Homo sapiens: one gene and its partner. The protein of the gene in region 1 purifies or fractionates together with the protein of each later gene. This does not show direct contact. Each region holds a gene or a part of one and is shown in the gene's direction. Other genes may lie near its edges.

The links.
Region 2: the proteins of WRNIP1 (region 1) and POLD1 purify together in Homo sapiens (affinity purification with western blotting; 2 studies listed by BioGRID and IntAct, with this or other methods). This does not show direct contact.

The regions. Positions count from the first base shown.
Region 1 is NC_000006.12:2,761,271-2,768,676, forward strand, and holds the start of WRNIP1 (ATPase WRNIP1), read left to right. Parts: upstream 1-4,203; 5' UTR 4,204-4,352; coding exon 4,353-5,174; intron 5,175-7,406. Other genes in the region: MYLK4 (myosin light chain kinase family member 4), read right to left, coding at 4,073-4,203. UniProt on the Homo sapiens protein: Functions as a modulator of initiation or reinitiation events during DNA polymerase delta-mediated DNA synthesis. In the presence of ATP, stimulation of DNA polymerase delta-mediated DNA synthesis is decreased.
Region 2 is NC_000019.10:50,415,089-50,418,545, forward strand, and holds the end of POLD1 (DNA polymerase delta catalytic subunit), read left to right. Parts: intron 1-349; coding exon 350-502; intron 503-635; coding exon 636-738; intron 739-1,307; coding exon 1,308-1,440; intron 1,441-1,521; coding exon 1,522-1,635; intron 1,636-1,956; coding exon 1,957-2,009; intron 2,010-2,083; coding exon 2,084-2,181; intron 2,182-2,753; coding exon 2,754-2,859; 3' UTR 2,860-2,926; downstream 2,927-3,457. UniProt on the Homo sapiens protein: As the catalytic component of the trimeric (Pol-delta3 complex) and tetrameric DNA polymerase delta complexes (Pol-delta4 complex), plays a crucial role in high fidelity genome replication, including in lagging strand synthesis, and repair.

The DNA.
Region 1 (7,406 bases):
CAGTGAGGTATTAAAGGAGAAAATGGAAGCCTAGGTTTCTGCTTTACATTGATTTCATTTCCTGGGACCTTATACTATACGAGTTTAAATTTATTTGTATTTATGCTGATCTGAAAAGAAAGTTTAAATTTGATTGGCAAAGCAATCTAAGAGGAGGGGTGATTTTTGAAGTACGTTTTTTTCATTTATTTTTCTACCATCACCACCTAGTGGAGAAAACCTTGAACTTCAGACAGAGGGGACTAGGGTTCAGGAAAAAATATTACTACAGGACCTACTGGGTGCCAGGCACTTTACTAAATACTTTCACATTGACAAGTTCACTTAATTCTCATGACAGACCGTGAGGTAGGCATTCTTATTCCTCCTTTAGATTTGGAAACTGAGTGTGAGAAGTTATGTAGCTTGCCCAAGGTCACACTATGGACAGCTCAAAACCCAGGTTCTTGAAGTCAAGGTCTAGAGTCATTTTCACCTCATAGGTCATCCAAATAGCTCAACTTCATCCATGTATGTAGCTGTGGGAGACATGCACACACACACACAATCTTTGCTTTGTATTTTTCCTTTTTATTATTTACATAATATAGGATAGAAAAGCACAAGTAGAAAAAGGAAATGGCATTATACTATATACATTAGGTTTTGTTTTTATTTTTTGAGACGGATTCTCGCTCTGTCGCCAGGCTGGAATGCAGTGTTGTGATTTCGGCTCACTGCAACCTCCACCTCCTAGATTCAAGTAATTCTCCTGCCTCAGCCTTGCAAGTAGCTGGGACTACAGGCTCGCACCGCCACACCCAGCTAATGTTTGTATTTTTAGTAGACAGGGTTTCACCATGTTGGCCACGATGGTCCCCAACTCCTGTCCTTTTGTGATTCGCCCGCCTCAGCCTCCCAAACTGCTGGGATTACCGGAGTTTATATTAATTCTATCTCTCTTAATTTTTACTCCCATAGTACACAAGTTTCCCATGACAATACTTTTGAAAACCCTATTAACAATAAAGTTGGACGTAAAATTAGGTCTATATGCAACTCTACTGTCTAATCTTGAAACACGTCCTAAGAGACTTAAGGTACCAAAATACTAACAATGATTACAAGTAGACTTGTAGATTTTCCACAGCATTATTTTCTGAAAAAAGAAATTTTAGGCCTTATATTAAGAGATTCAAGAAATTTGTTTCCATTTTAAAATTTTTTGGATGGGTTAATTGATCATGTGGCCACGTTATCTCTATAAATGTTTAAAATCAGTGTACTGTATTTCCACATTTAGTAACACTTTTCTTGAAAACCTTGCTTTGAGATCAGCCCTAAAACTTGTTTTGCAAGTATTCACTTCTGTGATGCTCCTGCAATAATCCTTATGTGCTCGCAGTCAATGAGTTTTTACTCTCATTAACTTGATGAATAAACGCATAGACCCTCACGGAAACTGTTAACAGTTCTTAAACACAGTGCAGAGTTTCTTCTTTCTGGTAGCTTCCTGATCTCGCCGGCTCAGAAATCAACTGGCAGACCTTCCCGGAGACCGTTAGAGGTCTTAGGTCAGCATCTCTTAAGTTAGCCGTTCCTGCCAGTGGGTTCAGTGGGTTTGTGGTCTGACTGCCTTCAGAAATAAAGCTACAAGTCTCCACAGTGAGTATTACCACTCATTAAGACAATTCAGACCCAAACACCAGCTAATGCAAAAAATAAAAGAACAAAACACCCACACAAGCAAAAGAAAGCCAAGCGGGTCTCCATCGCCAGCTCTAGCAGCCTGCTTTTATTCTCTCATCTGGCCCCACCCACAACCTGCTGATTGGTCCATTTTACAGAGAGCCCATTGGTCTGTTTTACGGAGAGCTGATTGGTCTGATTTGACAGGGTGCTGATTGGTGTGTTTACAAACCTTGAGCTAGATACAGAGTGCCGATTGGTGTATTTACAATCCCTTAGCTAGACATAAAGGTTCTCCAAGTCCCCACCAGACTCAGAAACCCAGTTGGCTTCTCCCATTAATTTCTGAACTGGGGCTGCAGTATAGAGTTGCTTGCTAGTCCCACGTAATGAGCCTGCATTGCTCAGCTCTGGGGTGGTGAACGGCCCTGGGTGCCGTGAGGCAGTAAGCAGCGCTTCTCAGGGAGGCTTGGGCCGCGCAGGAGTCCCCAGTTGGGGGGAGGCTCAGGCATGGCAGGCCTGAGCCTTGCGCTGCGTGGAGGCAACTACGGCCTGGCGAGAAGTGCTGTCCCAAGTGCTAAGCTCCTCACCGTCCTGGGCCGGTGGTGCAGGCCGCTCCGAGCGCGAGGCTTATCTGAGCCTACTCCCACCCGGAACTCGCGCTGGCCCGCAAGCACCGCGCGCAGCCCCGGTTCCCGCCCGCGCCTCTCCCACCATACTTCCCCACAAGCTGAGGGAGCCAGCTCCGGCCTTGGCCCGCCCAGGAAAGAGCTCCCATAGTACAGCGGCAGGCTGAAGGGTTTCGCAACCACGGCCGGAGTGGACGCCAAGGCAGAGGAGGCGCTGAGAGCGAGCGAGGACTGAGAGGGCTGCCAGAATGCTGTCACCTCTCACTGCTGAGGGACAAATGAAAAAAAAAAGCTCACGGTCGGGCGCAGTGGCTCATGCCTGTAATCCCAGCACTTTGGGAGACCGAGGTGGGCGGATCACCTGAGGTCGGGAGTTCGAGGAAGAAACCCCGTCTGTACTAAAAATCCAAAAAAATTACCTGGGTGTGGTGGCGGACGCCCGTAATTCCAGCTACTCGAGAGGCTGAGACAGCAGAATCACTGGAACCCGGGAGGCGGAGGTTGCCGTGAGCTGAGATTGCGCCATTGCACTCCAGCCTGGACAAGAGTGAAACTGCGTCTCAAAAAAATAATGAAAGCTCACGATCCTCTTTTGGTAGTTTCACGTTACATGATGATTAAAGTTTAACTTGTTTCTCTAGCGTTTCTATTAATCTTATTTTTGAGCCTAACTTTTTTAGTTAGAAACAACTCTTAACCAGCCAGCCAGGCGTGGTGGCTCAGCCTGTAACCCCAGGACGACTCCAAAGGCTAAGGCGGAAGGGTCCCGGGCGCCCAGGAGTTCAAGGCTGTGAGCTCTGGTCGCGGCCCTGCACTCCAGCCTGGGCGACAGAACGAGTGAGACCCTCAATGTGCTCTTGCCCAGATGAAATAAAAATTCAAGTTTTGGCCAAATTTCGGAAAAGTCTTCATTCTCCCTCAATTCATTTACCTCTTCTAGTTACCAAAAATGCCTGTTTTGAGATACATGTTTTAAAACGGGAGACTTAGACAAAAGCAAAAAATAACATGGTAATTCATTCAAAGATGCAGACTACCACACTTGTTTTAATCTGATATTCTTTCCATTTCTATCCGTCTAGGACGTAATTGCACACGGGCGCCTCCCATCATTTGGTTGCTAAGGAGACAGAAGGCTGGTGTTTCCGATTTGCCACTATTACACAGCGGCCCGCGAGAAGCATCTCTTGGCTCGAAGCGCGCTGTAGGTGAACCGCCCTTGACTTAAACGCCAACACATCTAAAAGGGGGCGAGGGACGCTTTATTTTCATTTCCCTGACCACTACTGAGGTGAGCATTTCTTTCACTCGCGTACTTGTTTGTATTTTTTCTGCTGTTCACGTCCAATAGAACACTGGTTTTCTATTGGAGGCTTTTGGGTTTTTTCCCCCATTTCCCTTTCGTTACAAACGACCCGCTGCGGCCGCCTCCTGCTTGTCCCCACAGGCCCATTCAACAGCCCAGCACGGAAGGCCGGGAAAGCGGCGCTCGCCGCTCCAACAACCTCGCGCAGTCCGTGGCTCCTCCCTGCCCTCGCGCGACTCGCAGGCCTGGGCGGAGGGCTGCGTCCGCCACCGCGCAACCTCGCGCACGCGCACCACGCTCGCCTCGCAACCCCCCCCCCCGCCCCTCCCCCGCCCCCGCAAAGGCTGTTCTCAGAGTCGGAAATGGACGCACGGCAGCTGGGGCGAATGGCCGCGGACTACACTTCCCGAAGTGCCGCGCGAGGTATTCTCGGCGGTGATTGGGGCAAACGGCCACGGACTACACTTACTTACATGCCGCGCGAGGCGCCTCCGCCGCCGGGGCAAACGGCCACGAACTACACTTCCCGACACGCCGCGTGAGGCGCTGCCAGCGGCCGGCCGAGGGCGGGCGGACGCGGGAGCTGCGGACGTGAGGCATGAGCGGCGCCCTCCTCCGGCCCGCGAGCGTCCTGCTGGTTCCCCGAGCGAGGGTCTCGCGGCGCGGGGCCTAGCGGAGGGCATCGAAGGCCTCCGCGTGCGCACGGGTTGCTGCGGCCGCGCCGGGCGCCGGGGAGGGCGGCGGCCGCCATGGAGGTGAGCGGGCCGGAAGACGACCCCTTCCTTTCGCAGCTGCACCAGGTGCAGTGCCCCGTGTGCCAGCAGATGATGCCCGCCGCGCACATCAACTCGCACCTGGACCGCTGTCTGCTGCTCCACCCGGCGGGGCACGCGGAGCCCGCGGCCGGGTCGCACCGCGCCGGGGAGCGGGCCAAGGGGCCCTCGCCGCCCGGCGCCAAGAGGCGGCGGCTGTCGGAGAGCTCGGCGCTGAAGCAGCCAGCCACCCCGACGGCAGCCGAGAGCAGCGAGGGCGAGGGTGAGGAGGGCGACGACGGCGGCGAGACCGAGAGCCGCGAGAGCTACGACGCGCCGCCCACACCCAGCGGCGCCCGCCTTATCCCCGACTTCCCGGTGGCCCGCTCCAGCAGCCCCGGGAGGAAGGGGTCGGGGAAGAGGCCGGCGGCCGCCGCCGCGGCGGGGAGCGCGTCTCCGCGCAGCTGGGACGAGGCGGAGGCGCAGGAGGAGGAGGAGGCCGTGGGCGACGGCGATGGCGACGGGGACGCGGACGCGGACGGCGAGGACGACCCGGGGCACTGGGACGCGGACGCTGCCGAAGCCGCCACCGCCTTCGGGGCCAGTGGCGGGGGCCGCCCGCACCCCCGGGCGCTGGCTGCCGAGGAGATCCGACAGATGCTACAGGGCAAGCCGCTGGCCGACACGATGCGTCCTGACACGCTGCAGGATTACTTCGGGCAGAGCAAGGCCGTGGGCCAGGATACCCTGCTGCGCTCGCTCCTGGAGACCAACGAAATCCCCTCGCTTATCCTGTGGGGGCCGCCGGGCTGCGGCAAGGTGAGTGCGGCCTTGGCCGTTGGGCTTCCGTAGTTATCTCGGCGGTGGATGCAGCTGATGGTCGGAGAGCCGGGTGTGCTGCCCTCGAAAGAAGCCGCCTGCCTCTCCTGGATAAGGGGGTGCAGACTTGGGCTGGGCTGGGGCAGTGCCTGGTCCACAGGTGGAGTCTGTGATGGGTGTGAAAAGGGCACACACCCCCAGATTGGTAAGGCAGGCTTGCCGGGTTTGCAAAAGGACGATGTCTGTGAATCCATAGTTTTACAAGATGTGGACTCTTAGATTTGATCTGCCTTTATCTTCCATCGGTCTCCCCGCCCCCTCCCCAGACTTTGATTTAGTAACCGAATTCGCAAGGAATCAGCATGTTTAAATTGTAAAGAAACATTTGTATATTCCGTTTGTACATAATAACGGATTCAGCTTTGAAAAAAATCAAATTAATTCTGTTGTGCTTCCTTCCTTTTCCACTAGTTGTTGGTTTAACAGACTGGTATTTATTCTTAAGAATAAGTTTATTTAACATTCTTATATTCTTGAGAATATATTGATTTTACTAAATATACTCATGTATTTACAAAACTAACATAAAAACTTTTTCATCTGCAAGTCATTTTCATCCGGTATTTCCGTAACTTTTCTCATAATGCCTTGTACTCTAGAGAAGAAACATCCGTGCATTTTGGTGTCCAGTTCTGTGTCCCTTCGTGAGGCGTTAGCGTTCCAGATGAGGGCAGTTAGGATATTGTGAGTCTAGAAAGCATGTCATTGGAAAAACACTTGAGAAAAAAATGGAGGAGGTGAGCCAGAAAACAGAGAAAGCTAAGAAGTGCTTAAATACAGGATGCTTTTATCCATAATAAGGGAGAAGAACCAGCATCAGGAAGGGAAAGGGAGAATTCAGGGATCAAACTGTAAAGAGTTCTTGTAGCTTTGAGATTCAGACTCGTTTGCACACAAGGCTTTTATGATTTTTCTCCTATTTTTCTTTCTAGCTTTATCTCCCACAACTTAAGCACACCCCCTTTAACTCCAGTTCCTGGAATGAATTGCCCTTTTTGTGCCTTCTTGTTTGCACTCATGCCTTCCCTTTGGCCAGGAATAAACCACATCTATCCCAAATAACATCTTATGATGATGGTGGTCGAGTTGTTGACGTCTGTCCCCATGGATTTAGTTGTTAACCCCATTTAAGGGATTGAGCAGTATCATTCTTAGTAATTGTGAAGTCTTTACATAAGATCATGAGAATGGATAATCAGCTGTTGGTGGCCCCAGACAGCAAGAAGGTCCTTAGGGAGACGAGTGGGTGAGCTCATCCCACCTACCAAATGCCAGGCAAGAGGTTTGGGTGGTCCAGGCTGCTCAGTGAGATGGGCGTTGGTCATTTGCAAGCCTAGGCATCTGTGACTTGCGAGCCTGATTCCAAAAGGCAGGCAGGCGGGGATTTCTGAAAGAAGCAGCCACAGAATGGGTGCTCTACAACTTTTAGAAAAGAAAGTACCACCTTTCCATTTAGGTGCAGATTTGTCACAGTCATTAAACAGTCTTCAGTTTTTCTTCTCATCCTTTAGTACTAATAACAACATTCATATTAATAACAGCATATACATATTTGTTGAGGACCCAAGAAGTGCTTTACCTGGGTCTCCTTGGTTTTCTAGTAATTGCTAATGTGACCACAGTGCTGCCCTTCATCTCCTACCAGAGTGAACATGCAGAAGTGGCCTACAGTCATCTCAAATGCTAGGTGGATGTCATTGGTCTCAAGGCAAATGCTCCCTCACTCTCCTTTTCTCAGCTGTCCTGAGCTTCCAGTTCGGGCTGTGGTTCTGCGATGAGTTCTGCACCTAGATCCTTCCGTGCTGTCTCGGCTAGAGGAGGGAGAATTTTCTCTTTGGTGAGAGGTCACAGCTGTCACTCTGCTAAATCAAGACAGCCGTTCTTTACTGGGATTCCAAAGATCTTAAAGAGTCACCCAAAAAGGAATCAAAGGTGGTTAGGGACAGAGGAGAAAAGGTCAGGATTAGCCTAAGGTTTAGCTACTTTCCTGTTTTATTTATAATATTTTTGTTGTTGTTGTTTTTAAATGTCCTGTGGTATTTTTGATTGTTTCTGTGCTGCTCAGCATTCTTCCGAGGTCAAGTTGCTTTTGGTAAATAGTGATGCTGCGTGTGGTGGTTCCCATGGGTGCTGGTCTCTCTGTGTCTTACCAGCTTTTCAAACTCCATGTAT
Region 2 (3,457 bases), on another chromosome or scaffold:
CCACGGGTCCAGGCCCCCAGCCCCCTCCTCCTCAGATCCCGGGGTCAGGGCCCCCAGCCCCTTCCTCTCTTAGATACAAGAGTCCAGACCCCCAGCCCCTCCTCCTCTGGGAACACAGGTGTCAGGCCCAGCTCTTCCTCGGTGGTGAAGCAGTGGAAAGAGTCGGCTTGGGCAGCTGTGGGTTCAGGCCCTGCCTCTGCCACTCTGCAGCCTATGGTAGGAAGGGCCCCTCTCTGCCCTGAGCCTCAGCCCTAAGAGCTCATCCTGGTCTCCAGCCCTGAGACCCGTGGAGGCACCAGCCTGGCCCTCAGTGCCTTTTGGTGACGCTGTGCGGCCCGCTCTCCTACAGAGACCCTGAGGGCGCGGTGGCTCACGCACAGGACGTCATCTCGGACCTGCTGTGCAACCGCATCGATATCTCCCAGCTGGTCATCACCAAGGAGCTGACCCGCGCGGCCTCCGACTATGCCGGCAAGCAGGCCCACGTGGAGCTGGCCGAGAGGTCCTGCGCGGGGCGGGTGGCCTGGCCAGAAATAACCCCCTCCTTCCTGCCAGCTGGGCCCACTTCCTACACCCTCGCCCCCACCCCCGCCACCCACCTGCCCTCACCCACCCGCCACCCCATCTCCACGCAGGATGAGGAAGCGGGACCCCGGGAGTGCGCCCAGCCTGGGCGACCGCGTCCCCTACGTGATCATCAGTGCCGCCAAGGGTGTGGCCGCCTACATGAAGTCGGAGGTCAGGCCCACCTGGCTGCCTGCTCCCGCCCAGCCCCCTCGCTCTCACTTCTGCTTTCCGAGATGGGCGGGCCTGCGGGAAGGGTGGGGCCTCCCGTGCCCTGTGGGGCCCTGAGAACCGCCCCCCATGGCAGCCTGGGTGTGGCCTCGGCCCCCTCTGGAGGTCCCCCCTCTATTCTGACCCCTCCCTTGCTTCCCTATGGAAGGGGCCCCAGTCCCTCCCCTGTGCATACAGCTCCCCAGCCGGGGGTTCCCTTGGATTCATAATCCTCCAGCTCTACCCCCACCCCCAGTGACCCACATCTTAGCCCCATGACCTCTGACCTCCTGACCCCTTCCTCATCCTTGCTTCCCCTTGTGAACTCTGACCCTTCCGTGGTGACCTGAGAGCCCTACAGACTCTGTGGCCCAGAGACTCCGTGACCTCCGACCCCATCCCAGACCCAGGCCCCCCCCATGTCACAGCCCGCAGGCAGGCCTAGGCCCTAAGCCCCAGGCCCCATGACCACCCCGTGTCCACCCCGGTGCCCTTTCCCTGGCTGCCCGGGTGTGACTGCCATGTGGCCGCAGGACCCGCTGTTCGTGCTGGAGCACAGCCTGCCCATTGACACGCAGTACTACCTGGAGCAGCAGCTGGCCAAGCCCCTCCTGCGCATCTTCGAGCCCATCCTGGGCGAGGGCCGTGCCGAGGCTGTGCTACTGCGTACGGGGGCACCAGGGGACTGGGGGCACCCTGGGGGGGCAGAGGAGATCACCGGCCCACCACCTGCCTCCTCTCCTGCAGGGGGGGACCACACGCGCTGCAAGACGGTGCTCACGGGCAAGGTGGGCGGCCTCCTGGCCTTCGCCAAACGCCGCAACTGCTGCATTGGCTGCCGCACAGTGCTCAGCCACCAGGGTGAGCGGCCCTGGCCACTGGGCCCCCACTGGCCCTCAACCTGCTCTGCCGTCACCCCAGATCCTAGACACCCACCCCATCGGCTGGCACTGCCACCCAGTGGGCCCAGGGCCCCTGGGTGGGTGGCCCCTGTCTCCACCCCCCACAGAGGGTCCTCGGCCCCCACCCCGGGAGTTCCCCAGGGGAGTTTTCCCAGCACACTTGCTCCGTTGTTCTCCAGCCTCTGGGGACTTTCAGAAGCTGGGATTGGCAGTGGGCAGGGATGGGGTGGCCCAGTTCCTGGCTGGGCCCCAGCACTTGGGCTGACCCGCCTCCCCACAGGAGCCGTGTGTGAGTTCTGCCAGCCCCGGGAGTCTGAGCTGTATCAGAAGGAGGTGAGAGGGCCGGGAGGTGAGGAGGGGCCAGGTGGGGAGGCGGGGGCGCCCTGCTCAGCCGCTGCCGTCCCCAGGTATCCCATCTGAATGCCCTGGAGGAGCGCTTCTCGCGCCTCTGGACGCAGTGCCAGCGCTGCCAGGGCAGCCTGCACGAGGACGTCATCTGCACCAGGTGTGTGCCATGTCCCGACCCTGGGCTGCCCCGCCCCTTCCCAGCTCCCAGGCCTGTGGGTTGTGGACCCAACCTCTGACTCCAAGGCCTCTCCTGAGCATCCTCCCCGCCCATCCCCTTCCAGCTGTGAGCTGTCCTGAGCCTCAGTGTCCTTGTCTGAAAAATGGGCCCATCCCAGCCCCCCAGAGGGGGTGGGTGCTTAGGGAGGCAGCGCCCGGCACCCAGTGTTGCCCGGGAAACGGCTGTCCTCCCGACACACCCAGCCAGCCTGGCCCCCTCCCCAGGGCGGGGCCGGGCTTTCCCCAGGGAACGGGTAGGCGGGGTGGGTTCCCACGCCAGGTGACAGGTGATATACGGCCAGCCATGGCCCTGCACCTCGCCAGGCACCCGCTGTTATCGGCTCCCCCCCCCCACCCCCCCCGTGCCTGCTGAGCAAACAGCCCGCTGCGGGAGGGGGCGGGTGGGCTGGGCAGCAGGCGGGGACCAAAGTCCTGGGAACAGCCCCCACCCCTCTCCCAGGCTGGGCACTGGGCCTTGGCTGGTCCTGACCCTGCCCCTGCCCCCACCCGCAGCCGGGACTGCCCCATCTTCTACATGCGCAAGAAGGTGCGGAAGGACCTGGAAGACCAGGAGCAGCTCCTGCGGCGCTTCGGACCCCCTGGACCTGAGGCCTGGTGACCTTGCAAGCATCCCATGGGGCGGGGGCGGGACCAGGGAGAATTAATAAAGTTCTGGACTTTTGCTATATGGTGCTTTGTGGTCTCTGGGGGACACTGTCTGGTTTCATAAGCCCTGGCCTTGGCTGGGACCCTCCTGAGGCCCGCACCGCCCCTCATCCTCAGCAAAAGCCCCCGGACTCCCACCTGTGCTGCCTGGTTCATGTGGGCCAAGCCTGCCTCAGTTTCCTCTCTGGCCCTGAAGGAACCCTTATACCAGCGCTTCTCTGCCCTGCTTAGGGCCCCCAGGTGTCTGGCCCCGGCCCAGCCCTCCCTGGTGATGACCCTGGGGACCCTGGTGGCTGCCCCGCCCTCCAGGTGCTGACCTGTTTCCTCCAGGCCCTGGGGCAGCCCCAGGCGCACCGGGGCTTCCACTCCTCAGCCCGGCCAAGGGGACCCCCCCATCCCCCGCCGGACCACACACCCACGATGTTTCCACGTCGGGGTCCTGGCAATGGGCTTTGGGTCTGGGTTTCCCCCCAGCGACTCCCATCTCTATCCCCGCAGCCTCTAACTGCCGTCAGATGCCCTCGGCCCTCCCGTCACCTCACACATCCCCC